2 separate regions of the Homo sapiens genome follow, and region 1 is linked to region 2. Evidence: fine-mapped expression QTL. Tissue or cell type: naive CD8 T cells. Region 2 holds a variant in brackets; the other region holds the start of a gene. All regions are shown on one strand. Distances are between the middles of the regions.

Region 1 (14,374 bases), 36 kb before region 2:
TCTGCCTTCACCTCTCACAGGCTCCCTAATCACATCCTCTCTGTTACTCAAGCTAGAAACCTGGGAATTATCCTGTTTTCCCCTCTCCTGCATTTCTACAACCAAGTCCTCACCAATTCCACTTCTGAAATATGTATCTCTATTTCCTCTAGTTCTTTCTGTCCTTGGCCACCATTCTGATTTGGGCTACATCATCTTCAGCCTGGATTTCTTCCAGAGACCCTTAGCCTGTCTCCCTAGATCCCTTCTTGCCCCTTCCCAGCACATTCTCCTTACACTGGCATCCCTTCCTGTCATTCCAAACTGAATGCCACTTGGGACTCAGGATATGTTATGGGGGTAGAGTCAAAGGAGTTGCTTATGTGGGATGAGAAGGGAGAAATCAAGAATGAGTAGGATTTTGCTGGAGCAATTTGATTTGTGTCAAGGTGGGAAAGTTTGGATGAGGTACAAGTTTGGCTAGTGGGGTAAGGGATAGGGGTGATCAGCAGTTCCGTTTTCAATATGCTAACCCCGAAATGTCCATTAGTCAATCAGAGGTAGTCTATGGTTGGAGAAATGTTAGACATATTTGTTGAATGAATAAGCGAACCAAGCTAGGCTATCAGAGAAGCAAATTTACAGGGAGAGATTTGGAAAAGTTGTTAGGCTATGATCTACTGAGACTTATGTGACGTTCTAATGGAAATCTCGTATTATTTGGAAACATGGGTCTGGAGATTAATAGAAAAATGAGACCTAGATACACAGACCTGAGGGTCATCACTGCATATTTAAATTATGGAAGAAAATAAGATGGCTCACTGAGACTTCTAGAAAATTAAAATATTTTCATGTCACATTTTTTATTCAAAAAAGTTAGTGTTATTGAGTCTGATAGAGGAAAATATTGAGCATCGTCCCTGGCTTCTACCCACTGGAAGGCAGTAGCTCTCATCATCCCTCACCCCCCTACCCCAGCGTGACAACCAAAAATGTCTGTAGGCATTGCCAAATGTCCTCTGGGGTGGGAAGGGGATCATCCCTGGTTGAGAACTACTGATTAGAAGAATGTCAATGAGAAAATCAGTAGTTCTTTTTAGTTACCGAAATGTAATATTGGGGAATATTGGAAAAGAGTTTTTATCCTGAAAGATGCTCTTGGAAAGGATTTTAGAATTAAGCTGGCTGCATGTACCCAAGGATGTAGGGTTGGAAAAGAAGAGGATCAAGGAGGGAACACTGGCGAGAGCAAACTGACCCAGGGCGGAGGGAGAGAAGCCCTGGACACAGTGATAGGGAGGCTCAGTTTTGTTGGCAGCCTCTAGCTTTCACTCAGCGTTGCAGACAGCCTTTTCTCCCCCTGCAGTAATCCTGTCTGCTAGCCACAGGCTGATGGCTTTGGCAGAAACAGACAATGTCCCCAGCATTGCTGTACCTGATGGTTTATTATTTCATTTGAGAATTTCAGTGCAATTCACCTGCTGCCCCCTAGTGGAGCGGCTTGCTGATGCCTAGTAAACTGTAGCAGTTCCTCATGTGAGTTTAAAGGCTGAAACTGTAAAGCTGGCTCTGAGCTTGAACACCAGGGTCCAGAGACTGGAACTCGTTAACCCTCTAGCTTTCTTCCTGTCCTACCTCCAAATTGCATGCCTAATGCTTACTAGCGACTCCACAAACGTGGAGGAGGTGAGTGCACAGACCGTCACCGGGGCCAGCAGAGGAACACAGGGGCAGGGTAACACGAAGGTTGGAAGTAAGGTAAAGAGTAGCCCAGGGACATTCCACTGAGCACCAGGGAATATCTCTCTATTTGCCTTAGCTGTTGCTGTTCTGGATGCCCTTTGTGGAAAAAACGAGAGGACAGCAGCTGGAAGCGACACCATCCTGTTTCAAAGGCAAGATGGAAATGTTATTCACTAATCTAGACCATGGAATGACACTGCTCCCTAAAAATTGCAGTTGAAGACAGAGCATCTATGTTTGTGTATTTGCCAGAAAAACACTAATCGTAGCAGAATTCCTTAGCACAGATTTAGAAATATTGAGGGGCAAATCCTGCCCCTGAAACATAATTGCATATGGGAGGGTGGAGGCAGGTGTAGAAAACAGTTATCTGAGGAGAGTGGGAGGGCAATCCCCGTATCATGAATGTTACAAAGGCCCCTACTCATTGAACCTCTTTAAATAATAAATTTTTAACTTAAAAGTCACACTACACAAATTATGAAAAAATCGTATTTTTAAAAGATCACAATTTATTTACATTAGGGTCATCCATAGTGCACCAAAACTATTTTTGGTTTCCCAAGAAAAAATATGTATGCATAAATCTTCATGTTAAATGGCCAGATTCTAAGTATATAATGAGGGTAGAATCAATGGGATTTTTGGATTTGCTCGCAGGTTGGATGTGAAAGGGAGAAAAGGTGGGATGTCAGAGTCAAGAATGACTCCTTCCAAAATAACCTAGTAAGATGTCTCAACATCTTCATGTTGTAGGGAATGAGTAGGGACAAGGGAATTAATTTCTAATTCAAAACCTGAATCAGTTACATAATTGGTTTAATTCCAACTCATAATGATTTTCTGCCATAGTAAAAACTGGAGGCATGAAGTGATAAAATGTATTATAAAGAAAACTTTGATGGGACAACCCCTTCGTAAAAGTGAAAGTACTCTCCTTTATGACATGGTTTTCTGACATGGACTAGATATCTGGTTTTGCTATCTAATAATTGCCTAATTTGGGATGCATTTTATAATAAGTTTCTCCATTCATGAATTGAAAACAGAAAACAGTCACTCTGCCCACGTACTCTCACTAGGTTACCTGCATATAGAGCCTCTGTCTTAGCTCAAGCTCCTGTTAAGAAATTAACAAACAGCGTTTCTTCAACGATTCATCTCTCACAGTTCTGGAAGGTGGAAAGTCCCAGATCAAGGTGCTGGCAGATTTGGTTCTGGTGAAGACCTGCTTCCTGATTTGTAGTCAGCCTTCTCCTTGGAGCCTCACATGGCAGAGGGCAGAGAGAACACTCTTGCGTCTCTTCTTATAAGAGCATCAGCCTTATTCATAAGGGGTATACCTTTATTCCCTAATTACCACTCAAAGGCCTCACTTTCTAATACCATCACATTGGAGGTTAAGCTTTCAACATAAGAATGTTTTTTTCTCACATCTGTAGCAGCCAGATCAATACATGAATACATTCAGTCTGTACTATCAAAGGACAATTTGTTACCTGGAGATACACTTTGCAACCTATTAGTCAACTGAGGATACTGAGTAGGCAGTTGAATATATTCATCCCCAGTGTTCATGAACCACTGATTCCACCTCAAGTCTATCTTTGACACACAGCATTGTATGACTTCTCAGGGTTAAAAATAATTATCTGTAGAGGTTTGTCTAAATAATATGCAGATAACCAATTCCTCTGGAATTTCAACTTTTTAATGCTTAGATCAAGCCCAGCCTTGAAAGAGCTATTTGCTGGGATTCTAACACTTTGGAAGTTTTAAAAATTTTTTACTGAATTGCACTTCAACGTAACATTGGCCTATACCATACCCAATGAAATTGGTGATTTTACCTCTAGGAATGTTAACATAGATTGCGCCATTATACAATTTTCATTATGAAGCCCCAGGCCTTAGTACACTTCAGGCCTTAGTACCAAGATAGTGATGCATCTTCTAGATTATCTGTCTTACTTTGTGAAGACTGATCCATGCAAGTGAATCTTCTTTCTTTCCAAAGAAAAAAATGTTCAGCCTGTAATTCTGGCACTTTGGAAGGCCAAGGTGGGCAGATCACCTGAGGTCGGGACTAAAAATACAAAAATTAGCTGGGCATGGTAGCCGGTGCCTGTAATCCCAGCTATTTGGGAAACTGAGAACAAGAGACTTGCTTGAACCTGGGAGGTGAAGGTTGCAGAGAGCCGAGGTAGTGCCACTGCACTCCAGCCTGGGCGACAGAGTGAAACTTCGTCTCAAAAAAAAAAAGAAAAAAAGAAAAAAAATGTTGAGTCAAATATGCTGCCTAATATAGTATGTGTTCAGGTTACTGCAGCATGTATTTTTGCTGTAAATACTTCCCTGGGCTTTATCTTGTCTACCGATGTTACCTTTAACTATAATTCCCTAAGTTGCTTATCATTATGTGTTTTAAATAGCTACCTCACTTTTTTCATTTTGAATGAGGCAAGAAACAAAATAGCAAACCTTGGGCTCAAGGTGGACACAGGAATGAGAGAGGTAGAAGAAAATAAGAAATTAACTGTAGAAAGTTAAGTTAAAGGCCAGGCACACTGGCTCATGCCTGTAATCCCAGCACTTTGGGAGGCTGAGGAAGGTGGGATCGCCCGAGGTCAGGAGTTTGAGACCACCCTGGCCAACATGGTGAAACCCTGTCTCTACTAAAAATACAAATATTAGCTAGGCGTGGTGCCAGGCGCCTATAATCTCAGCTACTTGGGAGACTAAGACAGGAGAATCTCTTGAACCCAGGAGACGGAGGTTGCAGTGAAGCTGAGATCAGGCTATTGCACTCCAGCCTGGGCGACAAGAGCGAAACTCCATCTCAAAAAAAAAAAAAAAGAAAGTTAAGTTAAAGAGCCTATTGCCTATTGTTACAATGAGATAAAATTGATAAAACGTGAAATAAACTAAAAGGACATATTAAAAGAAAAATGCAAAGAACATTCGTATCACATTTTCAGTGTGCTATGGAATCTGCTCACATCTTTACTAATAATCTCTTCCAAAACATAGGCTATCTCATATATTCTGAATATGATTTTGATTTAATGTAAAATGTAAAGAAGTACTTCTATCACCTAAGTAAATTAGTATGTTTCATAAAAGTAATTTCCTCCAAAAGCAATTTTAATTTGCTAAGAGAAAAATAAGAACAAAAACCATTCTTACTGCCACACCTACCATCTTAAAAAACAATACCAAAAATGCAAATAATAACCTATTTCCATGTGTTACTTAAATGGAGTTATCTGTGTTAAGTATTCTTGTCTAAGAAAAGGCACTGGCAAACAAAACCAAAGCCAAAACACAGAATTTTTGCTATGAATTTTAAATTTTTTATTTTTGTTCTGGAAATTTTATGTTTACTTAAAACCTTGTATATAATAGAAACATAATCCATTGAGCCTTTGGATAAACAAAATTTTCGGAGTTTACTCATAATATATTCTTCAAATTATCCCACACAAAACTGCTTAGAAAGAATGTGTTAAACTATACTGATGATTTAAAAACAAGCACAACAACATAAAGAATCTTCCTCTATTTCAGGAGAAATGATTTACTGTGAAGTTACCCTTTTAACATCTTTGGTGTCAATTCTGGGTGAACCAGGATGGTCGCTTTCTGTCTCGTTCAATGATCCTCTTGCCCTGATCTTGTTCAGACGGTGTCTCTCCCGTGTACAGCACCACAGTCTCTATGGTGGGAGCCTTAAAAGGGCCCCCTTCTTGCTTCCCTATCTGTCGTCTGATTTCTGCAGTCTCCTTGCACACCTTTTCATAGCAGTAGGCACAAAGGACATGTTTCTGTTTCAGGTGACCACATTCAGGACAAACGTCTATGTTGTTCTTTAAAACAATAAACAAAAACGTATTTTAACATGAGGCAATATAACGAACAAATAACCACTGACAGGAGCAATGCTTACATTTTAACTTTCTTAGGATGTTCAGGCTACATGAGGTCATCATACACCATCTAGTTCCACCTCACTTTAACAGGAAGACTGAAGACAAGCAACACTGAGTTTGAATTAGAGAAAAACTAGAACTAGAATTCAGCCAACCTGAATCTGGTATCTTTACTTAAACACAGCAGTTGTAGTTATGTAAAAAAGAAAAAAGAAATACTCATTTCCCCTAACTCCAAATACTAAATATCAAATAAGGAATTTGTCAACATAATGAAGTGACCCAAACAATCAGCATCTTAAATAAGACACCAAGGAAAAGTGAATTCCCTTTGTCTTTCAATCTATCTTAGGGAAAACAAGATAAGAACATTACAAGTTGACTTCCTTGGCTTCCTCTTTTTATCACAGTGTAATTCAAATTCCTGTACAGAATACAGGTTTCGTATATGGTATAATTTTTCTTTTTAAAAATGAACACTGATTATTCCTTAATGTAAAATTATTTTCTATGTTACATTCTTAGGGTATTTTAATGATATATATATGTGTGTGTATATATATATATATAGAGATAGATATAGATATATATATATCTCCAACTTTAAATATAAAATAGAAACATTATAACCTCTAAAAGATTTATCAACTTATTCTAGATGTAGGTTTGAAAGAAAATACAAAGAAAAATACTAAACAGGATCATTAAAGAAGCTTTAAACACTTGATAAGATTAATATACTAACATTTGTGAGGCAGATAACAAAAGAATTTCCTTTTCTGAAAGGAAGAAAGAGGCTTGTATATTACTTGCCTAACCATATTCTCATTTTGCTCCACTACTGGAAACTGGATTGCATGCACAACTGAAGGTATGAAGACACCCACAGTCAGCTGGTCTTCCTTTCGTGATCAAAGTACCCAACATAACACACTATATACCGTATGTAACAGAAAATAATTCAAGGAAGAAAATAAATGCACAGGATAAGAACTATTCCTTCAGAATAAATGCGATCAGGGAAGTCACATAATAGATCAGTGCAAGATCTCATTCCTAAAATCTTACGTCCTCTTGAGCAAATTTATGAATTACTGTAAGTCTTAAGTAATAAAGTGTTTTTCAGTTCTACATTTAAGTTCAGCCCCAACCATCACTCAATAATACTTTCTGGCTTAAGTTCTAAGGTTTTGCTTAACAGAATGTGGATGCTTATGAAAGTCAGCTTTCTGTTCTCGAGTTTCATCTGTATGGTGCTGCTGTTGTGGAACGCCATGAAGTAAACAGTAACTGAAATCCTAACTGTTAAAACCATACATGAACAGATCAGAGGTAATACACACTGTAATTTTTCTTTACTAGATCAATGAAGACAGTACATCCATGTTGTCAGCGAGGAGAATCTGAAATTGTCTGAGGATAGGAGAACACAAAGAAAATCTTTAAAAGAACATGAGGTCAAAAATCAGAGCTCGAAAATCTACTGCTTCATAGCTGTGTGACCACAGGCAAATTCTTTTTGCCTCAGTTTTTTCATCCTAATAATGAAGAATATCTTATTTGCTTTGGAGGGCTATAAGACATGATGAGATATAATAAACATAAGGCACTGAGATACATCATAGACACTTAATTGTTGTTAGCTATTATATTACTTATCTTAGGGTTTTCCTTCATGGTATTTTGTTGGAAATGATAAAAAAATAAAACAAATATGTAAGGGCTTGTAAAACCCAAGATTCAGTATACCTACTGCTTCTAGCTTTAATTCTAGGCTCTGCCATAGTTAGGATGTTTACTCATCTGTAGTTCAAAACTCACACAGCTCAAGACTGACACAGCTCACAATTCAGAAGTCATGTAGGCACCTCACAGCCTCGTTCCTTGCCCAGTCTCCAAACTCACTCCTTCCTTGACTGTGTTTCTAATACTCAGGCTAGAGGACAGCAGGCTCTAGCCTTCTCATTATGTATATAATGAGAATACTGTATTTCATTTAGGCCAGAGGAAAGTAGACACATATAATCTGATAATAATTTATTCCTAGGCTATAGGAATCTACCATGAGCTTATTCAATGGAGGACTTGAGGAAAAGCACACCCACAAAAATCAATGCATTACCTTAACTTTAATAAGCTTCTGCGGATTTCTTCTCCTACACCGGTTAACTTCAATGGTGCGTCTATTTTTGGGAGCTGCCATCCAAAAGATACTGTCCAAAAGGCTGGAATTCTCTTTACTTCCACTGGTATCATTTGCTGGCTCTGTAAACATGGCTGGGCCCTGTACTGCTAATGCTGGTCCTAGGAAATAAAACATAAGAGATACAGAATTAGTTTCTAGCTTCTAAATTACTATTTACAGATATCATTTTCCTTAACAATCAATGGTCAAACATACACACACACAAAAACTATATATAAAATTTAGAATGTGAAACTCAATAATGAGAAACCTTAGCTATTAAAATACACTAAAGCTTATACAATTTTAAGGAACACAGAATTTTTTCTTAGCGGATCCTGCTGAAAAGAAGATCAGTGAAATTCCATCAAGTTTCTTATCTCATAAAATACAGGACTCTGATAGGCACCTAACTTGAACAAAACAAGCAAAGAATCACTCAACTGTCCACATTCTATTAATACTTGGCGGGTAGTAAGTACCTGATTAATTTACAAGTAAATCTAGACAGATTTCCTGAATACACTTCTGACCGGCACTGATGTAACTGCCAATTGCCTTTTCTTATATTCAAACTGAGTCAGGTCCTTTATGATACAACCTCTTAAGTCACTTAGTTCCTCATAACATTTAATCTTGATTCCTGTCTGCTCTCTAAAGAAAAGAGCCAGCTCACCATTTCTCTGTATGGCCTTATTTATGTGACTATCAAAGTTTCTCTTTTTCTGAATTGCTTATAAAATCAACATTCCTTTACCCTTTCCTTGCTATTTCTTAGACGTGCCATACTTTTTTTTTTTTTTTTTGAGACTGAGTCTCACTCTGTCACTCAGGCTAGAGTGCAGTGGCGTGACCTCGGCTCACTGCAACCTCCGCCTCCCTGGTTCAAGTGATTCTCCTGCCTCAGCCTCCCAAGTAGCTGGGATTACAGGTGTGCACCACCACGCCTGGTTAATTTTGTATTTTTAGTAGAGACAGGGTTTCACAATGTTGGCCAGGCTGGTCTTGAACTCCTGACCTTAGGTGATGGACCCACCTTGGCCTCCCAAAGTGCTGAGATTACAGGTGTGAGCCACCGCGCCCAGCCCACATACTTCTTTTGATCTTAAGAACTCTTAAAAATACACAAAGTTCTCTAACACTTAACAACTGGCATTTATTTTCAGTATGTCCACAAGTATTGCCAAGCATGCCCCGGTGATTAACAACACAGGCTCAGGACTGTCTGTGAACTTGGGACCATTGTGAGCCTACTGTTTCAGTTGGAAAGTGTATACACCTAATGGGACTGTTGTCAAGATTATCCCAGGAAGTACATGTAGAAAGCTTGGCACATTGCTTGGCATATAGTGGCATATATTTTCTTGGTATATTTCTGGATATTATCACTTTCAGGCTGCTTAGAAATTGAGTAGAATGTAAATGCCAAAGCCATGACAGTTTCAACATCCAAGATACTTCCAATTAAAATTAATTCCAAGTGAAACATGGGAAACAGAATTCAGCTCCTCAGAGCTCAAACACCACAGAAAACATGTACTGCGCGGGAGGGAGGGAGGAAGGGAGGAAAGAAGGGAGGGAAGGGAAGGGAAGAGGAGAGGGGGGAGAGGGGAAGCGGGAGGGGAGGTGAGGGCAGGGCTGGAAAGGAAAGACAGATCCAGAGAGTGGTGAGCCTTGATGCCAAGTGAGACCTGCAGAACTGTCCTCTCAGGACAACTCTGTACAAATCCCTGAACTCCACAGACTTGACCAAACTCTAGCATAGTTTCTAGCAGCATAAGGCTGTATCCTAGGATGACCTCGGCCCCCCCTTTAAAGTGCCTGCCTGAGAAAGCTCAACGCTGCCTGGAAAATTTCCTATTTATTTTGGCCAACATACCCCGATAGTAGGTCCCGAACTCCCTTAGAGCATTTCCTGGAAAGGGCATATAATTGTAAATACGTATCCCTTGCAACTAACTCGGAAGCTTTTCTTTCAAGGCCCTGAGAGCCATTCCTTCGAAATCTAATCATTAGGAAGGATAGGGCCTTTGTCTCCCAGTCTCTGCGGGAGGATAGAATTCTCCCTAAGACAACTGCGAGCTAGCAGACACAGCCGGCTAATCACATTTGCACTGACTTCACTATACTACACTTCTCTGACTCTACAGAGCCCCTACACTCCCGCCTCGCTCATTCTCCCTTTAAAACGCCCAAAGTCACCTCTGCACAAACCGGGATGGAGCTCAGCTCTTTACCTGCAGTAGTTACTGAATAAAATCTGTTTTCAGCGCTTTACTTACTGGCTGGCTATGATTTATCTTTGACACAAGCTTGGGTTACATTCTGTGTACGAATGGAACAAGCAGAGGAATTTTTTTTTTTTTTTTTTTGCGGTGGAGGGAGCGCAAAAACAGTCGTTCTGTTCTCGCTAATATGGGAATGTCACGAACTACGTCCCCGACATGAGGCCGCGGATCAGAACCGGGGCTGAGGGCGAACTGTGTAAGCTGCGTCTGCTACGCTGCCCGAGGTCCCGTCATCAGCCCCCTCTCCCACGGAGCCCTTCTTTACCTACCCCACGGAGGACTGGGAAAGCCCGGCCGGCTCTGCGGAAGCTTCCGTAGCAGTCGCTCCCAGTAGTTTCGAAGCACTCCCCGGGCCGCAGACCACGGCGAAACCACCAAGACCAGCATGGCCAGCGCCATTTTCCCTGCTGGAAGACCGCCCCGGTCCCGCCCCTGCTTTCAGCATGCGCACAGGCACAGAATCGGGCAAGCCTCGCTTCTTAGAACTACAACACCCCGCATGCTCTTGGAGCAGCTCTGACTCTCCTCCAATCATAGAGAGTAAAGGAAAGGTGAGGGGCGGGGAAATGAAAGGAAATCGGCCACAGTGCGCATGTGTGCGGCTGTGCTTTGGCTCTTCGGGTAAAGATGGCGGAGCGCGGGTACAGCTTTTCGCTGACTACATTCAGGTATGGAAGGGGCCCTCGAGGTCTTCAGCGTAGTCGAGGTTGCTGGTACTCTGTCGATTTAGTTTTTCCCATCCTGACGTCGGCATTGGTGCTTCTGGAGGGTCCAGTAGGGAATGGAGTTGGAAATGCGGCTTTGCAAAGTCATTTGCCAGGCCGACCCGGGATTCCTGGAGCTTCCTTGGTCGGAGGCTGCTGGAGGGTCGGGGGGATGCGGTTTTGCGGGGTTAACATGGGGCTGCGGGACGGTGAGGCACATAGCCAAGGATTCGCTTTCACTTTGGAGACCAGAAAAGAAGGCAGTTTTAGCTTAACCATCTCTGGGTGGCCCGTTCCGAACTCAGGATTTTTTTCCTGGCTCAAGTAGACCTGATGCGGTGGTTTCTGAAACTTGGAATCTTGGTCAAATATGTGGGGTTCCCTTTTCTTGGAAAACTCTCAGCTTTACAGTTAAGTCGGAGTCTTGGTCTCCATTTGGCACTAGTGTCTTTCAAAACCTCCCGCTTTCGGTTTCTTCGATGCACGAATTAGAAACATAAGGACTAAAAACCGAAAGCCCCTATCACTTTTTTGTGAACCCCTAACAACGAGGCAAGTTTGAGTTTTGGTCTTTTTTTGGTGGACTGGGGGGAACGTCGGGGAGGGGGATGTTTACTTTAAACAAGATTGTAGGTTTTTCTATTGTAGAAAAGGGGATTAGAATAATAAGTTTACTTTCCAAAATACAGTTGGGGCGAACCATGGCTCTCAACGTGAGAAAACCATCGCCGAAGACTTTTAAAAATTGACTGGGGAAGTTTTCTGACTTACCCATTTTCTTAAGGATCAGTAATGCCCAGTTTACTTAAAATGTACTCCTGACAACTGAAGGCAGGCGGGATCTAACTTGTTGAGTACTTTGTTAGGTGCAACTTAACCTTAACCTGCTCCATCTCTTTCCACTGCTATAATGAATGTTATCTCAGCTTCTTACAGATGAACTAACCGCAGCTTGTACAAATTAAACAACTTGTCTAAGGTCATCGGTGAGTAGCTGAGTTGACATTCAAACTGGGTTTTTTTTCTGATAACAAAAATACACTTTCCATTACATAACGTTGTCTTAAATTCCAAAAGTACTTTTCTCTTGGCAGTTTTCAGTAAGCAGTGGGTGTATGTAATAGTTTTTTTGTAACCTTTGAACGAGATTAATTTAATTATGCAATAAAAGGTCTCATTATATTACATATGACAGAATAGTGTGTGCAGGATGTATTCACTGTTCCTATTTATGAAGAAAACAAATGTGGTCCTTTTTTTAGGGACAGGGACTTGGCAGCCTCCAGCTCTTGGGCTCAAGGGATCCTCCTGCCTCAGTCTCTGGAGTAGCTGGGACTAGAGGTGTGCACCACCCTGCCTGCTAATTTTTTTTTTTAAGGCATGAGGTCTTGCGATGTTGCCCAGGCTGCAAATGTGGTCTTTTATCGCGAAGAAAGTGTAATCCTAGTGGAGCTGAAAACATAAAACAACCGTATACCTTCAGGGACTGAATCTTTTTATAACAAATTTTCTTTATTAAAATAAACTTTTGGCCAGGCAGGGTGACTCACACCTGTAATCCCAGCTACTCAGGAGACTGAGGCAGGAGGATCACTTTAGCCCAGGAGTTCAAGACTAGCCTGGGCAACACAGCAAGACCCTATCTCTGAAAAAAATTAAAAAATTAGCCAGGCATGTGCCTGTAATCCAAGCTATTTGGGAGGCTGAGGGCGAGAGGAGCACTTGAACCCAAGAGTTTAGGATTCAGTGAGCTGTGATTCTGCCACTGCACTCCAGCCTGGGTCACAAAGTGATACCCCATATCTAAAAGTTTTTTTTAAAAAAACCAAACTTGTGTGTGTGTGTGTGTGTGTGTGCGTGTGTGTGTGTGTGTGTTTTAACATGGTGGATTCACCTGTTTTAGATAAAAAGAAAATATTTGTTTCTAGCCTCTCATAATCAGAAGTAAACTAATGGTGGAAGGGACTAGAGACCATACAGGATGAAACAGTTCTTGTGGACTACATTTGGTTGAGGAATTGACAATAAATGAGTAAACAAATTGGTGCCTACTAATACATTCTCTTACTAAGGAATTTTATTTTAAATGGGTGAAGGAAGGAATATGACTTTAGATTGAGTAATCAGGAAAGGCTTGTGCTTGGGGGTGATTTTTGAGACTGGAAGATTAAAAGTAACCAGCTATTTGAAGATTCAGGAATAAGGAGACTTGTAGACAGAGGGAACAGCATGTATGAAAGCCCTGAAACTGGGAAGGAGCTTGAGCTCTTAAAGGAATAAAAATGAGGCAAATGTGCTATAGTGAGCAAGGAGATAATGTGGGAGAGGGCTAATCGTGTAGGACTTTGTAGGCCAGAGAAGGAGATTTTATTTTACGTGAACAAAGAAGTTATTACAAAATCTAAGTGTAGGTGACATGGTCCAAAGGTAACTTTGGCTGGGGGTGGAAGTAAGGTTGAGAAAGAGGAAAACCAGTTAGAAGGCTATTTCAGTTATCCCATGTAGGGATGCTGATGCTATGGAATGGGATAGTGGCATTATGGAATATAAAGATGGTTGATTGCTCAGCCAGCTCACAGGTTAGTGAGCTTTCACGCAGTGAAATCATGCAGTGGTAAAGATAGGTATGTACAGGTAATAGGAACAGAGAAATGGTAGCTATTAAGTTTACATGAGCCTTTAAATGTTACCCAGGGGTATATGAATTAGGTATTGAACAATAATTGAAAGCTGGATGGACCCAGAAAGTTATGATATGATTATTGAAATAGTGACTATTAAAGGAAAAGTTCAGCCTAATTTTTTAATTTAAATGTCAGTTGATGTTATTCTGCTCAAATTAATTATATCAAGAGCCTTAAAGCTGTCACCCTTAGGTCTGTTTCTTTAATTGGTCTAGATGTGTCTCTGTCAGCCAAATGATTGTGGATTCCTGGTATTAGGTTATGTGCTGGAATCCTGACTGAACATAGCTACTTTATTGAGGAAGACAAATATTGTAAAAATAATAAAGAGACCGAGGCAGGAGGATTGCTTGAGACGAGGTGTTTGAGACCAGCCTGGGCAGCATAGCAAGACCCTGTTACTAAAAAAAAAAAATAACAATTCAGATATGATGAATCTTAGACAAAGAGGAAGTGCAGGACATCACAGGCATCAGTGAATAGGTATTCAACTTAATCTTGAGGGTTCAGGGCAACTTCCCTTAGGACATGATTGAATGAAAGGAGTTCACAGGGCAATAGAGAAATGCATTTCAGATGGAGGGATTAGCTTGTCAATGAGGCGTTTGAAGTCTGAGAGTAGTCTATGTGTTTGGAGCAAGGAGGGATGGAGTTGAGATTTGAGTGACCAAGGGAATATTCGTAATTATATGAAGAGAAAATACGGCCTTCTGAAATTTATATTTTCATTAGTAGACGGGAGATAAGGACCTAGCTGTGTCACTTTGGACAAATTACTTTCACTCAGACTTTATCTATGAAATTAGGTTGGTTTATGATGATTCCATTTAAACAACTAGGTTGAAATAAAGGATAACTT
Region 2 (15,703 bases):
GACTGTAGAGTCATGGATACATGTTGGATTTGTTTGAGGCAGAATTGACATATTAATGTACTCATTCGTTTAATAAGCATTGAGTGACAGCCATGTGTCAGACACAGTACAAAGGGCATGGCATATAAAAGACTTGTTTTAAAGGAGCAGAAAGAAGGTAGATTTCTATCCCTGCTCCCTATGAATCAATCAATACCTAAGAACTTGGGATCTTTGCCAACTAGAAAGTGGACAGGCCACAGCACTCTTTAGGAAACTGCTTTGTGAAGTGACCACAGCTGTGCCCTGCCAAAGACCATGATGTTTTTTCAAGCATTCCAGTGATTGCAACTCCTAACAATGTAATAAATAATGCAAGCAGTACATATGCTCAAGTAGTAGGGCACTGGATCCTGGAATGTAAGAAATAGCACCTTCCCTAGAGACCACACACATGATCTACACTGTCAAGGTCTATTCCAGCTGGCCAAAACATTCCTTTCATAAAGGTAAAATATTAGACAATAAAGGCCGGATGTGGTGGTTCACACCTGTAATCCCAAAACTTTGGGAGGCTGAGGGGCAGATCACCTGAGGTCAGGAGTTCAATACCAGCCTGGCTGGCATGGTGAAACCCTGTCTGTACTAAAAATACAAAAATTAGCCAGGCATGTTGGTGGGTATCTGTAACCCCAGCTACTCAGGAGGCCGAGGCAGGAGAATCACTTGAACCTGGGAGGTGGAGGTTGCAGTGAGCCGAGATCACGTCATTGCACTTCAGCCTGGGTAACAAGAGCGAGGCTACATCTCAAAAAAAAAAAGAGACAATAAAAACAATGAGGGAAGTTATAAAAGGAATGTTCAATTAAATATCAGTTAACTGGTAAGTCAAAGGAATCACAGAGCTATAGCTATAAAGCAAACAAATGTCCAAATAGTTCTAAAGTGTGAAGATACGTAATAAACTGTCGTTATGCCTGGGAATTGGAAGTGGTTGAGGAAAGTAAAAGCATGCTAAAAATCCTCATCTTACTTAGAGTCAACAGACACTTTGAAATTTTGCTATTGAAAAATAGAGCTATTTAGTTTTGAGTGTCAAACAGGAAATATAACTGATAGTATAAATTAAACCAAGCTGAATAGCTGAATAAATTCCAAACAAAAGGTGAGGATGGAGAATAAATGTAGTCCATATAGAAAAAGACAGGTCAGGCTGGGCGCTGTGGCTTACACCTGTAATCCCAGCACTTTGGGAGGCTGAGGCAGGGTGGATCCCTTGAGCCCAGGACTTCAAGACCAGCCTGGGCAACATGGCAAAACCCCGCTCTACAAAAAATACAAAAATTAGCCAGGCATGGTAGTGCACTCCTGCAGTCCCAGGTACCAGGGAGGCTGAGGCAGGAGGCTCACCTGAGCCTGGGAGGTCAAGGCTGCAGTGAGTTTTGGTTGTACCACTGTACTCCAGCCTGGGCAACAGAGTGAGACCCTGTCTCAAAAAGAAAAAGATAAAAGAATTGTGAATGAGGCATAAAAAGCAGAAAGCATAAAATAAGAGTGCTAGCTGCAAGCACAGGAAGGATATAAAACAGCTTTGGAGGGAGATATATAGATAATTGTGATATACTGGGAAATCTCATTGGAACAGATGACTGTTTCAGGAAATGTAAATTAGAATTGAAAAATAGCCTAAATAAGCAATAACCATTTAAAAAATTGTTAAAGAAGTTAAGTAATTTCTCCAAAATATGTGCAGATGCAGTTAACTTTATTAGACAAGTTTTTTCCTACTTTTAAATACCGAATAATCCCCGTGCTCTAAAAGGTAATATGGAGCATAACCCCGTAAGTGGGGTTGAAATGTAACATGGTAAGATGTGTTGTTCCTCTTACTCCCTGTCCTCTGCCCCAAGAGGAGAACTTTGGCCTGCTCTCCTGTTTGAGAACAGGGCCTGGGTATGGGACTGAAGCCCATGGGGTGTTTCTTGACTCATGTAATAACAGGCTGACTGTCTCAGGTCATCCTTGTATTGGAAATGTTTTCAGACTCATTTTACAGAACATGAGTATAACTCTGATACTGAAACCTGACAAGATTGCATAAAAAAGAAGCTGGAACAAAATTTCAGTTTAAAAAGATACATAAACATCCCAGACAAAATGGCACTGCAGACAAAATGGATTCAGGCAGAGAACATTTCACGCTGTGGGAATCTTTTTGTTGTTGTTGTTTTGTTTTTTGAGATGGAGTTTCACTCTTGTTGCCCTGGCTGGAGTGCAGTGGCACAATCTTGGCTCACTGCATCTTCCACCTCATGGGTTCAATTGATTCTCCTGCCTCAGCCTCCTGAGTAGCTGTGATTACAGGCATGCACCACCACGGCCAGCTAATTTTGTATTTTTAGTAGAGACGGGAGTTCGCCATGTTGGCCAGGCTGCTCTTGAACTCCTGACTTCAGGTGATCCACCCACCTCGGCCTCCCAAAGTGCTGGGATTACAGGTGTGAGTCACTGTGCCCGGGAATCTTGTTCCCAAGAGGAAGAAAGGCAAGGATGAGTTCCCAACCGTTATAGTAGGGATGTGGGGATTAACCTTCATGCTGGGATAGAATCAGAGGCATGAGGCCTGCTTGAGGTAAAGAGGTAACCCCAAGACCCCCACTGAGTGAACCAGAACCTTAAGGCTGTAATGCCCATGAAAGAGGATCTTGTAAACTTTGCCCAGGGACACAGCAAGGGTTTGACTCCAGTGGTTCTGGGGGCGGGTGTGGGGTGTGGGGTGGGGGTGGTGGGGCGGGGGGAAGAACTCTGAAAGAAATCAAAGCCCAGACTGTGTCCCACATAGAGTTCAAGTCATTTAACAGCATCATGGGGGAAACCCAGAGATGTGAAATTAGTATAAAAATTGGCCGCTGGCAAGTGCTATCTCTCAGACACCTGAGAACAACATACGCAACCTCATTCTGGACTTAGGGACATTTTAGTTTCCCGGCTACGTAGATGTCTATAGAAAAACTGAGCTTTGATTGGATGCGCTTACAGTGAGAAATAGTCAAAACGTAGAAGGAAACCTTCCACCACCAGCAAATCAGCAACACATAAAGAGGAGCATTAGTTCTTCAAGAACTTAAGATTATAACAAAATACATTAAAATAAAATATATGATATTATAGAATATATATGTAAAAATATATAATAGCAAAATATAAAAGAAAGTAAGTTTGGGATCTTCTAAGTGTTCCCTATCCTCTGAAAAAAAAACAAAAAACAAAAAGAAGTAGTAATTCAAAGTAGCAGAGGGAGGCTGCAACCAAACATTGCACACACAGCTCAGGTGGAGGATGTGGTGTATATGCGCAGCAAGTATGTTTCCTAATACTGAAGCCCAGAATTAGGCAGACATTAACCACTTGATTGCAGGTAATTCTGGGGCATGTGACAGGGAGAGCTTGTCCCAAAAGGGCTGCAGAGAACACCTCACCCTGTGGCAAACTTATTCACAAAAGGAAAAAGCGCAGAGATGAGCCAAGCCAAGCCTCCAGGCATTCGTCTGAAACTTGCAATCAAATACATTTCTCTATATTCCCAGGAGAGAAGGGCCAGGCATATGCTGGGGGATATAACGCCTCCACTTCCCTGCCATCATGCAAGTAAGAATGGGGAAAAAAGGCATTTCCCTCTTCACCTAAATAACAAATGATTAAAGGGGATAAAAAAAAAGGCATAGAAACTATAAGGGGCCAGGTGTGGTGGCTCACGCCTGTAATCCCAGCACTTTGGGAGGCCAAGGTGGGCAGATCACCTGAGGTCCCGAGTTCAAGACCAGCCTGGCTAACATGGTGAAACCCCGTCTACTAAAAATACAAAAATTAGCTGGGCATGGTGGCGTGCATCTGTCATCCCAGCTACTAGGGACACTAAGGCAGGAGAATTGCTTGAACGTGGGAGGTGGAGGTGACAGCTGAGATCATGCCATGGCACTCCAGCCTGGGCAACAGAGCAAGACTGTCTCAAAAAAAAAAGAAGAAGAAGAAAAGAAAAAAAAGGAAAGAGTACAAGCAAATAAAACTTCAGGAAATAGAAAAACTCACTAAAATTACAATCTCAGAAATAAAGTTTAAAATAGTAGGTGAGATAAACTAAAAGAATTCTGAAATGAATAGAATTTCCCAGGATTCAACAAATAAATTAAATGATGAAAAATATAAACAAGATGCTGAGACATGGAGAAAAAATGAGTCCACTCCATCAAAGGTTCTGGCAGACAACATGGACTGAGCACAAAGTCGGGTTCCCATCCTCACCGCCTTTGCCTGCCTGTGCCATAGAGACTGGAGACTAAAAGCCTCATGCTCCCAGTGTTGCATTTAGCTGGGGGCGGCCAGATTCCTTGCCTCTGAGACACGAGTGGAAGTGCAATAGTGCTGCCTTCTCCTTCCACCACAGGGTCCGATGTGGTCGATGGCTGTACTTGCTTCCATGTTATGGTGATGAGAGAAAGACCAAGTGCGGCATGTAGGCTTTGGTGCTGACATATGCTTCCCGCAGGACTTCTTGCTATGTGGAAAATCAATCCCAATTTATTTAAGCCACTGTAGTTGGCTTTTCCATTACATGTAGCTGAAAATATTTCTAACTGATATTAAAGTTTATTTGTTCCTAAAAGAGACAATTAGATAGCATGGTGGAGAGGGAACAAAATCATTTTGCAAACATACAGACAAAAAAATAGAATAGAATACGGACACCAGTGTACCATTCACCGAGGTTTAAACAGTCATTATTTTGCCTTACTTGCTTTCTCTAGGTTTTTCTTTTGCTGAAATTATTTTAAAATAAATTACAGACATCATGATATTTAACATATATCCCTCAGTACTTGGCTCTAAAAAGAACATTTTTCTAGACAACCATGATTCCATGAGTACATCTAATGAAATTAATAATTCTGAGCATCATCTAGTGCCCAATCTATATTCAGATGTCAGGGGATTTGTCTACCAGAATCCGGTGAAACACCAGATATTGCATTTGGGTTTAACGTTCCTTAATTCTGTTGCAATCTATGGTATTACCTTACCCTTTTATGACTGAGTTTTTTGAAGACACCAGGACAGTTGTCTTACAGAATATTCTATATTCTTGATTTCTCTGATTATTTTCCAGTGGTCAGTTTGATTTCCTGTAAACTGAAAAGGATATCTAAAGGCTGGATTCAATTCTGGTTAAACATTTTGGGCAAGAATACTTTGTGGTTGATACTGTGTTCCTCATTTTCGTTACACGAGGGGGCACATAATATCTGGTTTTTCCACTGTTAGTGATGTTAAGTATTGTTCCTTGAATAAGGTGGTAACAGCCAGAACTCTCCATTGTGAAGTTAGTTTTTGCCCTCATGACTAGTAAGTAAACTGTGAAGTCATGCTTTGGCGCCACTGTGAATGTTCAGTTACCCATTGCCCTTTTGCCTAAGATTTTAGCATGCGTTGATGATTATAACCCTAATGAAATATTCCATTCAAGTGACAAAATGGTGATTTCCCCAATTCTATCATTTCCTTTACACTTATCAGTTATCATTCTTCCATAAAGAAGAGGTTTCCCTTAGGAACTGGGGCCATTTGGCTCCCCTTCTGGAAGGGCAATATGTATCCTTGATTCTTTCTCTCCAGTTAATGATTTCAGAATGAGGGATTCATGTTATGGTCACCTCCAATAACATCAAATGAACCTTTTAGGAGGAAGATTCTATCTTGTGAGTACTATATTGGACTCATGAATTATTATATTTTCAAATATGCCCACATCAATTACCTTACTTTTTTAAACTTATTATTTTGAGATAATTATAGATTCGTGTGAAGTTGTAAGAAATAATACAGAGAGAACCCATGTACCTTTTACGCAGTTTTCCCTAGTGGGAGCATTTTGAAAAACTGTAGTACAATATCACAAGGATATTGATGTTGATGATGTCAAGATGCCGAGTATTTCCGTTACTGTAGGATCTCTCATGTTGCCCTTTTATTTATCATTCTTTTTGATGCTTTGACTGTCCAAACTTTGGCCAGTAGAAACGCGTTCAAGATTCCTGTGTCTTTTTCACATAATCCCATGCTGTTTGATTTCATGCTTTCTGGCAGTACAAGGTGTCTCAGAGTTGCCCGTGCTTTCTGCCTGAGACCTGGAATCCACTATTTCTTCAAGGAGCCTTTCCTAGTTCGTGGCATTTCCAAAGAAAAGTCCAAGGGCTAGGGGTACTCAGTGCCACTCAGTTGTCATTGATCCTGGGCTCTTGCAATGCACAAAATGGAAATGTTTATATATTTCAAATTAATTAAAATATCTTCAACTGATGGGGAAGATCAAAATTAACATTATATAACATTCCCAGATTTTTACTTAACATTAATTTCAAACTTTTGTCTCTTGCTCTGCAAATCTTTTTTCCTAACATACTTATTTGCTTTATGCTATGCTATACATAAAAAAGTTTCAAAATATGATTATTACGGCTTACAATAAAGTCACTGAATCAATATGAATATTTCTTTGCAGTTCTTCTGTCCTTTTAGCCCAGATATAAGGTTAAAGTACTGTTTTAAAGTCATATGATTTGTATTATTTTATGAGGCTATGTTACTAATTTGATATATAGTGAGCTTCATTTGTTCTAGTTTATTTTCAATTTTAGAGTTTTCTTTTTTGACTTAATTTTATTCTTTAAAATATAAGGATATAAAATTTGTGGCTCAAAAGCAAAAACTATATAAAAATTGCCATCACAAATGTATTGTTTCTATATGTCCCTCTCTTTTTACCTCTTTAGTCTCCCCTCCACTCCCCTTCCCTCCCTTCTTTCCTTCCTCTCTTTCTTCCTTTCTCCCTCTTTCCTTTTTTCTTTTCTTTCTCACATAAAGCACATACATACAAATAGTTTTTTTTTCCCATTCCTTTTCTTCATAAGAGGTAGCAATTTGTCTTCTTTTGTTTTCATTTAAAAATATAAGCCTGAGGTTACTCCTCCTGATAGTGGTCCTCATAAAGCCTATGAAAGGGGCATAGTACTGTGTGGGTCGGCCACAGGGTAGGCCACTATCCCCGTCCTGATGGATGTTTGCATTGTTTTCAATCTTTTGCTTTTCCAAATAAAGCCAGTAGGATAGCTTGTGCATAGTTTGTGGTTTTGTTTTGTTGTTGTTTGTCCTTGTGGAAGTGCATCTACACTAGTAAGAATTTGTTGTCAAAGGGTGTCTTGGTAGCCAGGTATTATCCAATGTCTCTGATTGGGAATTTTAACAGTTTGCATTCTCAACAGTAATGTCTGAGTGTGACTGTTTTTCCATAGCTTCATCAGTAGAGTGTATTGTCTCACTATGACATTATTTAATTAGTTAATTATTTGCATTTTCCCTTTTAAGAATGAGCTTGAGAAACTTTTTCTGTGTTTAAGGGATATTTGCATTTTTATTTTTTTCTGTGAACTTTTCATTTATTCTTAGGGCTGCCTTTTTGATTATGTTGCTCATTTATTTTTCTTTTCTTTTTTTTTTTTTTTTTTCTGAGATGAGATGGAGTTTTGCTCTTGTCGCCCAGGGTGGATTGCAATGGCGTGATCTTGGCACACTGCAACCTCTGCCTCCCAGGTTCAAGTGATTCTCCTGCCTGAGCCTCCCGAGTAGCTGGGATTACAGGTGCTGACCACCACTCCCAGCTAATTTTTGTATTTTAAGTAGAGACAGCGTTTCACCATGATGGCCAGTCTAGTCTTGAACTGCTGACCTCAGGTGATCTGCCTGCCTCAGCCTCCCAAAGTGCTGGGATTACAGGCGTGAGCCACCGCGTCCTGCCTATGTTGTTCATTTCTTTTATATATTCTCATTTTCTGGTTCATTTAATCTATCTTACTGAGAAAGTATAGTAACACCTCCTTGAATATTCAATAGTTTCTGTTTTGTGCAAATTGCTCTTTATTTATTTGGTATATAAAAAATGTGTTAACTTCTAATTGTGAATTACAGCTTTTATCATTAGAAAGTATCTATCTTTGTCATCCTTAATACTCTTTTTATTTTGTCTGATATCAAGATCAGGACCTCCCGGTGAATATTATATTAATTTGCCTAGTATACCTTTTTCCATTCTTTTTATATGTTTTTTACTTTTTAGCCCTTGAATTATTATATATATTTTTTATTTTTTCATAAGTTATTGGGGTAGAGGTGGTATTTGGTTACATGAGTAAGTTCTTTAGTGGTGATTTGTGAGATTTTGGTGCACCCATCACCCATGTATACACTGCACCATATTTGTAGTCTTTTATCCCTCACCGTCTCCCACTCTTCCCAAGTCCCCAAAGTCCATTGTATCATTCTTAATGCCTTTGCGTCCTCATAGCTCAGCTCCCACATATCAGTGAGAATATACGATGTTTGGTTTTCCATTCCTGAGTTACATTACTTAGAATAATAGTCTCTAGGCTGGGCGCAGTGGCCACACTTGTAATCCCAGCACTTTGGGAGGCTGAGGTGGGCGGATCACCTGAGGTCGGGAGTTCAAGACCAGGCTGACCAACATGGAGAAACCCCATCTCTACCAAAAATACAAAATAAGCTGGACATGGTGGTGCATGCCTGTAATCCCAGCTACTTAGGAGGCTGAGGCAGGAGAATGGCTAGAACCCAGGAGGCAGAGGTTGTGGTGAGCTGAGATTGCACCATGGCTCTCTAGCCTGGGCAACAAGAGTGAAACTCTGTGTCAAAAAAAAAAAAAAAAAAAAA[G/AAG]AATAGTCTCTAATCTCATCCAAGTTGCTACAAATGTTAATTTATTCCTTTTTTATGGCTGCATAGTATTGCATTGTGTATATATATATATATATGTGTATATATATATATATGTGTGTATATATATATATATACCACAGTTTCTTTATCCACTTGTTGATTGATGGGCATTTGGGTTGGTTCCATGATTTTGCAATTGGGAATTGTGCTGCTATAAACATGCACGTGCATGTGCAAGTATCTTTTTTGAATAATGACTTATTTTCCTCTGGGTAGATACCTAGTAGTGGGATTGCTGGATCAAATGGTAGTTCTACTTTTAGTTCTTTAAAGAATCTCCACACTGTTTTCCATAGTATCTGTACTAGTTTACATTCCTACTAGCAGTGTAGAAGTGTTCCCTGATCACCACATCCATGCCAATATCTACTGTTTTTTAATTTTTTTATTATGCCCATTCTTGCAGGAATAAAGTGGTATACATTGTGGTTTTGATTTGCATTTCCCTGATCATTAGCAATGTTGAGCATTTTTTCATGTGTTTGTTGGCCATTTGTATATCTTCTTTTGGAAATTGTCCTATTCATGTTCTTAGCCCACTTTTTGATGGGATTTTTTGTTTTTTTTCTTACTGATTTGTTTGAGTTTGTTGTAGATTCCTGATATTAGTTCTTTATCAGATGTATAGATTCTGAAGATTTTCTCCCACTCTGTGGCTTGTCTGTTTACTCTGCTGACTGTTCCCTTTGCTGTGCAAAAGCTCTTTAGTTTAATTAGGTTCTAGCTATTTATCCTTGTTTTTATTGCATTTGCTTTTGGCTTCTTGGTCATGAAATCCTTGCCTAAGCCAATGTCTAGAAAGGGTTTTCCAATGTTATTTTCTAGAAATTTTATAGTTTCAGGTCTTAGGTTTAAGTCCTTAATCCATCTTGAGTTGATTTTTGTATAAGGTGAGAGATGAGGATCCAGTTTCGTTCTCATACATGTGGGTACCTGATTATGCCGGCACCATTTGTTGAAAAGGATGTCCTTTCCCCACTTCATATTTCTGTTTTGCTTTGTCAGAGATCAGTTGGCTGTAAGTATTTGGGTTTATTTCTGGGTTCTCTATTCTGTTCCATTGGCCTATGTGCCTATTTTTATACCAGTACCCTGGTGTTTTGGTGACTATGGCCTTATAGTATAGTTTGAAATCCCATAGTGTGATGTCTCCAGATTTGTTCTTTTTGCTTAATCTTGCTTTGGCTATGCAGGCTGTTTTTCGGTTCTATATGAATTTTAGAATTGTTTTTTCTAATTCTGTTTGAAAGGATAGTGGTATTCTGATGGAGATTGGATTGAATTTGTAGATTGCTTTTGGCAGTATGGTCATTTTCACAATATTGATTCTACCCATCTATGAGCAATGGGATGTGTTTGTATTTGTTTGTGTCATCTATGATTTCTTTCAGCAGTGTTTTGTAGTTTTCCTTGTAGAGGTCTTTTGACTTCTTGGTTAGGTATATTCCTAAGTATTTTATTTTTTTTTACAGCTATTGTAAAAGCGGTTGAGTTCTTGATTTGATTCTCTGCTTGGTCGCTGTTGGTGTTTGGAAGAGCTACTGATTTGTGTACATTAATCTTGTATCCAGAAACTTTGCTGAATTCTTTTATCAGTTCTAGGAGCTTTCTGGAGGAGTCCTTAGGGTTTTCAAGGGAAGTGATCATATCGTCAGCAAACAGTGACATTTGACTTCCTCTTTATCAGCTTGGATTCCCTTTATTTCTTTATCTTGTCTGATTGCTCTGGGTAGGACTTCCAGTACTGTGTTGAAGAGGAGTGGTGAAGTGGGCATCCTTGTCTTGTTCTATTTCTCAAAGGGAATGCTTTCAACATTTCCCCATTCAGTATTATGTTGGTTGTGGGTTAGTCATAGACGGCTTTTATTACATTAAAGTATGTCCCTTGTATGCCGATTTTGCTGATAGTTTTAATCATAAATGAATGTCGGATTTTGGCAAATGCTTTTTCTGCATCTACTAAGATGATCATGTGATTTTTGTTTTTAATCCTTTGTATGTGGTGTATCACATTTATTGACTTGTGTATGTTAAACCATCCCTTTATCCCTGGTATGAAACCCACTTGATCATGGTAGATTATCTTTTTGACATATTGGTGGATTCAGTTAGATAGTATTTTGTTAAGGATTTTAGCATCTAAGCATCTATGTTCATCAAGGATATTGGTCTGTAGTTTTCTTTTTTGGTTATGTCCTTTCCTGTTTTTGGTATTAGGCTGATGCTGGCTTCACAGAATGAATTAGGGTATGTTTCTTCTTTCTCTATCTTGTGGAATAGTGTCAAAAGGATTGGTACCAATTCTTCTTTGAATATCTGGTAGAATTCTGCTGTGAATCTGTCTGGTCCTGGACTTTTTTTTGTTGATAATTTTTAAATTACCACTTTAATCTCACTGCTTATTGGTCTGTTCAGGGTATCTAATTCTTCCTGATTTAAGCTACGGTATTTTTCCGGGAATTTACCCATCTCTTCTAGATTTTCTAGTTTATGTGCATAAAGGTGTTCATAGTAGCCTTGAATGATCTTTTGTATTTCAGTTGTAATATCTTCTGTTTCATTTCTTAGTGAGGTTATTTGGATTTTCTCTCTTCTTTTCTTAGTTAATCTTGCTAATGGTTTGTCAGTTTTATTTATCTTTTCAAAGAACCAGCTTTTTGCTTCATTTATCTTTTGTATTTGTTTGTTTGTTTGTTTGAATTTCAGTTAGTTGAGGTCTGATCTTGGTTCTTTCCTTTCTTCTGCCGGGTTTGGGTTTGGTTTGTTGTTGTTTCTCTAGTTCCTTGAGGTATTACCTTAGGATGTCAGTTTGTACTCTTTCAGTCTTTTTGGTGTAGGTGTTTAGGGCTATTAACTTGCCTCTGAGCACCACCTTTGCTGTATCCCAGAGGCTTTGGTAGGTTGTGTCATTATTGTCGTGCAGTTCAAAGAATTTTTACATTTCTATCTTGATTTTGTTTTTGACCCAGTGCTTATTCAGGAGCAGGTTATTTGATTTCCATGTATTTGCATGGGTTTGGAGGTTCCTTTTGGGGTTGATTTCCAGTTTTATTCCACTGTGGTTTGAGAGAGTGCTTGATATAATTTCAATTTTCTTAATTTATTGAGGCTCATTTCATGGCCTATCATATGGTCTATCTTGGAGAAAGTTGCATGTGCTGTTGAATAGAATGTGTATTCTGTGGTAGTTGGATGAAATGTTCTGTATATACATGTTAAGTCCATTTGTTCCAAGGTATAGTTTAAATCCATTGTTTGTTTTTTGACTTTCTGTCTTCATGACCTGTCCAGTGCTGTCAGTGGAACATTGAAGTCTCCCACTATTATTTTGTTTCTATCTCATTTCTTAAGACCATTAGTAATTGTTTTATAAATTTGGGAGCTCCAGCGTTAGGTGCATATATGTTTAGGATTGTGATATTTTCCTGATGGAGAAGGTCTTTTACCATTATATGTTGTCCCTCTTTGTCTCTTTTAACTGCTGTTGCTTTAAAGTTTGTTTTATGTGATATAAGAATAGCTACCCCTGTTCACTTTTGGTGTCCATTTGCATGAAATGCCTTTCCCCATGCCTTTACTTTATGTGAGTCCTTATGTGTTAGATGAGTCTCCTGAAGGCAGCAGATGGTTGGTGAGTTCTTATCCATTCTGCTGTTTTGTATCTTTTAAGTAGAGCATTTAGGCCATTTACATTCAATGTTAGTACTGAAATGTGAGGTATTGTTGCTTTCATCATGCCCTTTTTGCCTGTGTACTTTGGTTTTTGTATGTTGTTTGTACTTTTTAACTTGTATTTTTGTTTTATAGGTCCTGTGTAATTTATGCTTTAAAGAGGTTCTGTTTGGATGTGCTGCCAGGATTTGTTTCAAGATTTAGAGCTCCTTTTAGCAGTTCTTGTAGTGGTGGCATGGTAATGGCAAATTCTCTCAGCATTTGTTTGTTTGACAATGACTGTATCTTTCCTTCATATATGATGCTTTAGTTTTGCTGGATACAAAATTCTTGGTTGATAATTGTTTTGTTTGAGGAGGCTGAAGATAAGGCCCCCAATCCCTTCTAGATTGTAGGGTTTCTTCTGAGAAATCTGCTGTTAATCTGGTAGGTTTTCCTTTATAGGTTACCTGGTGCTTCTGTCTCACAGCTCTTAAGATTCTTTCCTTCGTCTTAACTTTGAATAACCTGATGACAATGTTCCTCGGTGAAGATCTTTTTGTGATGAATTTCCCAGGTGTTCTTGCTCTTATTTGGCTGTCTAGATCTCTCACAATGCAGGGGAAGTTTTCCTCAATTCTTCCCCCAAATATGTTTTCCATGCTTTTAGAATTCTCTTCTTTCTCAGGTACACCGATTATTCTTAAGTTTGGTTGTTTAACATAGTCCCAGACTTCTTGGAGGCTTTGTTCATATTTTCTTATTCTTTTTTCTTTGTCTTTGTTGGATTGTGATATTGTATTTCTTTATTCTACTTGTTCAATTATATTGCTGAGACTTTCCAGAGCATTTCACATTTCTAAAAGTGTGGCCAGAGTTTCCTGAGTCTTTGATTGTTTTTTCTTTAAGCTACCTATTCCCATGAATATTTCTTCCTCTACTTTTTGTATCATTTTTTGGATTCCTTGCATTGGGTTTCACCTTTCTCTGGTCCCTCCCTGAATAGCTTAATAACTAACCTCCTGAATTCTTTCTCAGGTAAATCAGGGATTTCTTCTTGGTCTGGATCCATTGCTGGTGAACTACGGTGATTTTTTTGGGGGTATTGAAGAGCCTTGTTTTGTCATATTACCTGGGTGGTTTTCTGGTTCCTTCTCACTTGGGTTTCCTCTGTCAGAGGGAAGGTCTAGGGCTAAAGGCTGTTATTCAAATTATTTTGTTTCACGGGGTGTTCCCTTGATGTAGTACTCACCTCCTTTTCTTATGGATGTGGCTTACTGTGAGCGAAACTGCAGTGATTGTTGTCTCTCTTCTGGGTCTAGCCACCCAGTGAGTCTGCCTGGCTCCAGACTGGCACTGGGGGTTGTCTGCACAGAGTCCTGTGATGAGAACCATCTATCAGTCTCTCACCCGTGGATACCAGCACCTGTTCTGGTGGAGTTGGCAAAGAGTGCAATTGACTCCTTGAGGGTCCTTAGCTTTGGTGGTTTAGTGCTCTATTTTTGTGCTGGTTGGCCTTCTGCCAGGAGGTGGTGCTTTCCAGAAAGCGTTAGCTGTATGTAGTATTGTGGAGAGGGACCAGCGGTGGGTGTGGCCCTAGATCTCCCAAGATTATATGCCCTTTGTCTTCTGCTACCAGGGTGGGTAGGGAAGAACCATCAGGTGGGGGTGGGGCTAGGGGTGTCTGAGCTCAGACTCTCCTTGGGCCTGTCTTGCTGCAGCTGCTGTGGAGCTGTGTACCTAGGAGGATTATGGCTGCCTCTGCTGAGTCATGCAGGTTGTCAGGGAAGTGGGGGAAAGCCAGCAATGGCAGGCCTTTGCCGGCTCCCATGGAAACTGAAGGGCCAGTCTCACTCCCACCGTGCACCCCCCAACATCCTGAGTCCATGCACCCCCCTAACATCCTGAGTCCATTTCCAGGTGAAGGCAAGACTGGCTTGAAAATTTGCCCGAGGCTATCTGCCTCCCAGCTGTGAGAGAAAAGGACTTTAGTTCTTCCTGGCCTGTGAATTCTACATGCCCAATTTGTGCCCTCCCACTGAGTTCTGGCCAGGAGGCTTCTCCCCCATTCAAACTGTTACAAAGTTCGGGTAGAGAATTCCTTCTCCCTGTGGAGGTTTACCCCCCTGTTCCTCTGGCCAACCTCCCGATGGATCGCTGTGGTGCCAGGCAGGAATGGGCTGCCTGGGGACCCAGAGAGCTCCCAGGGCCTTTCTGCTGCTTCCTCTACCCCTGCACTTTGCTCAGCTCTCTAACCTGACTCAGCTCCAGGTAAAGTCAGAAACTTCTCCTGCAAACAGATCTTCAGCTTCTCCAGTGAGGATATGTATTTGGGAGAGGAGGGTCACCCTTTCCCACTTCCACAGTTGGGGCACTCACAGTATTTGGGGTGTCTCCCCCGGCTGCAGGAGCAGCCTACTTCCTTCAGAGGGTCTGTGGGTCCTCTTGGGATTGCTGGTTTTTACTTGCAGTTGATCTGGAGCTAAAATTCACAGCGCAAGCCTCCGCATGCTGCTCTGTCCAGAGCTGCAATCTAGTCCTTGGAGTTATTATATTTTAAATATGTCTCTTGTTTTATCGCACAGGTTTGAGTTTTGCTATGTGATCAAATTTGAAAATCATGATATTTAATTGGTCAGTTAAGTCCATATATGGCTTCAGGTTTCATTTTGAATGAAATCCACTGCAATTCACCTCTTGGTGCCTCAGCATCTTATTCAAAATTAAGGCAGTTGTGGTTGAGTGCTGGAGATTTCTCAAGAGTAAGGGGAGAGAGGGATCATAGTGGTGATGTTCGGAGATGCAGGGTGAGAGATTGTGGTGAAAACTGGAGGGGCTTAGTAGGAAAGATTTCAGGGAGTAGGTGGTCATCTCCCCAGGGAGCCACACGATTGACTGACATGGGGCTGGTGTCTCCTGGGAAAGGCAATAATCTTCATTCATTTTAGTAACCTGTATTATGAGTTCCCTTTAGGTATGGGAGTGTGGAGGTAGCAGAGAGTAAGAAGTATAGCAGGATCAGGTAGACAGTGAGTTCAGGAAGAAAAATAATAAATGTGCGTTTTCTGCTTTTGGAGAGGCAGTCTGTGAGTATCACTGGGGGGAGATTTTAGTGTCCAGAGTGAAGCCATGTCTGGCACAGGGAGCAAAGTCATCTCCAACGCTGAGGTCTTGAGTTGGGGCAGTGTCCTCCAGGAGGTGAGACTGAGATGTCTCAATGGGTAGGCACCTGAGT

Evidence for each region.
Region 1: MRPL32 starts here. The variant in region 2 is fine-mapped to the expression of MRPL32 in naive CD8 T cells (Schmiedel 2018, PIP 0.95).

Annotation. Positions count from the first base shown.
Region 1 is chr7:42,928,539-42,942,912 of GRCh38, reverse strand. It overlaps MRPL32 (mitochondrial ribosomal protein L32), which reads right to left and starts at 10,537. Exons shown (of 3, transcript NM_031903.3): 1 at 10,397-10,537; 2 at 7,777-7,958; 3 at 5,056-5,591. The coding sequence starts at 10,526. The coding sequence ends at 5,337. It overlaps PSMA2 (proteasome 20S subunit alpha 2), which reads left to right and starts at 10,739. Exons shown (of 8, transcript NM_002787.5): 1 at 10,739-10,795. The coding sequence starts at 10,755. RefSeq lists an enhancer at 10,359-10,588.
Region 2 is chr7:42,892,087-42,907,789 of GRCh38, reverse strand. No RefSeq gene overlaps it. Among named protein-coding and RNA genes, the nearest start is that of C7orf25, 12 kb to the left of the region's middle. The variant G/AAG (reference allele first, on the strand shown) is at 8,758.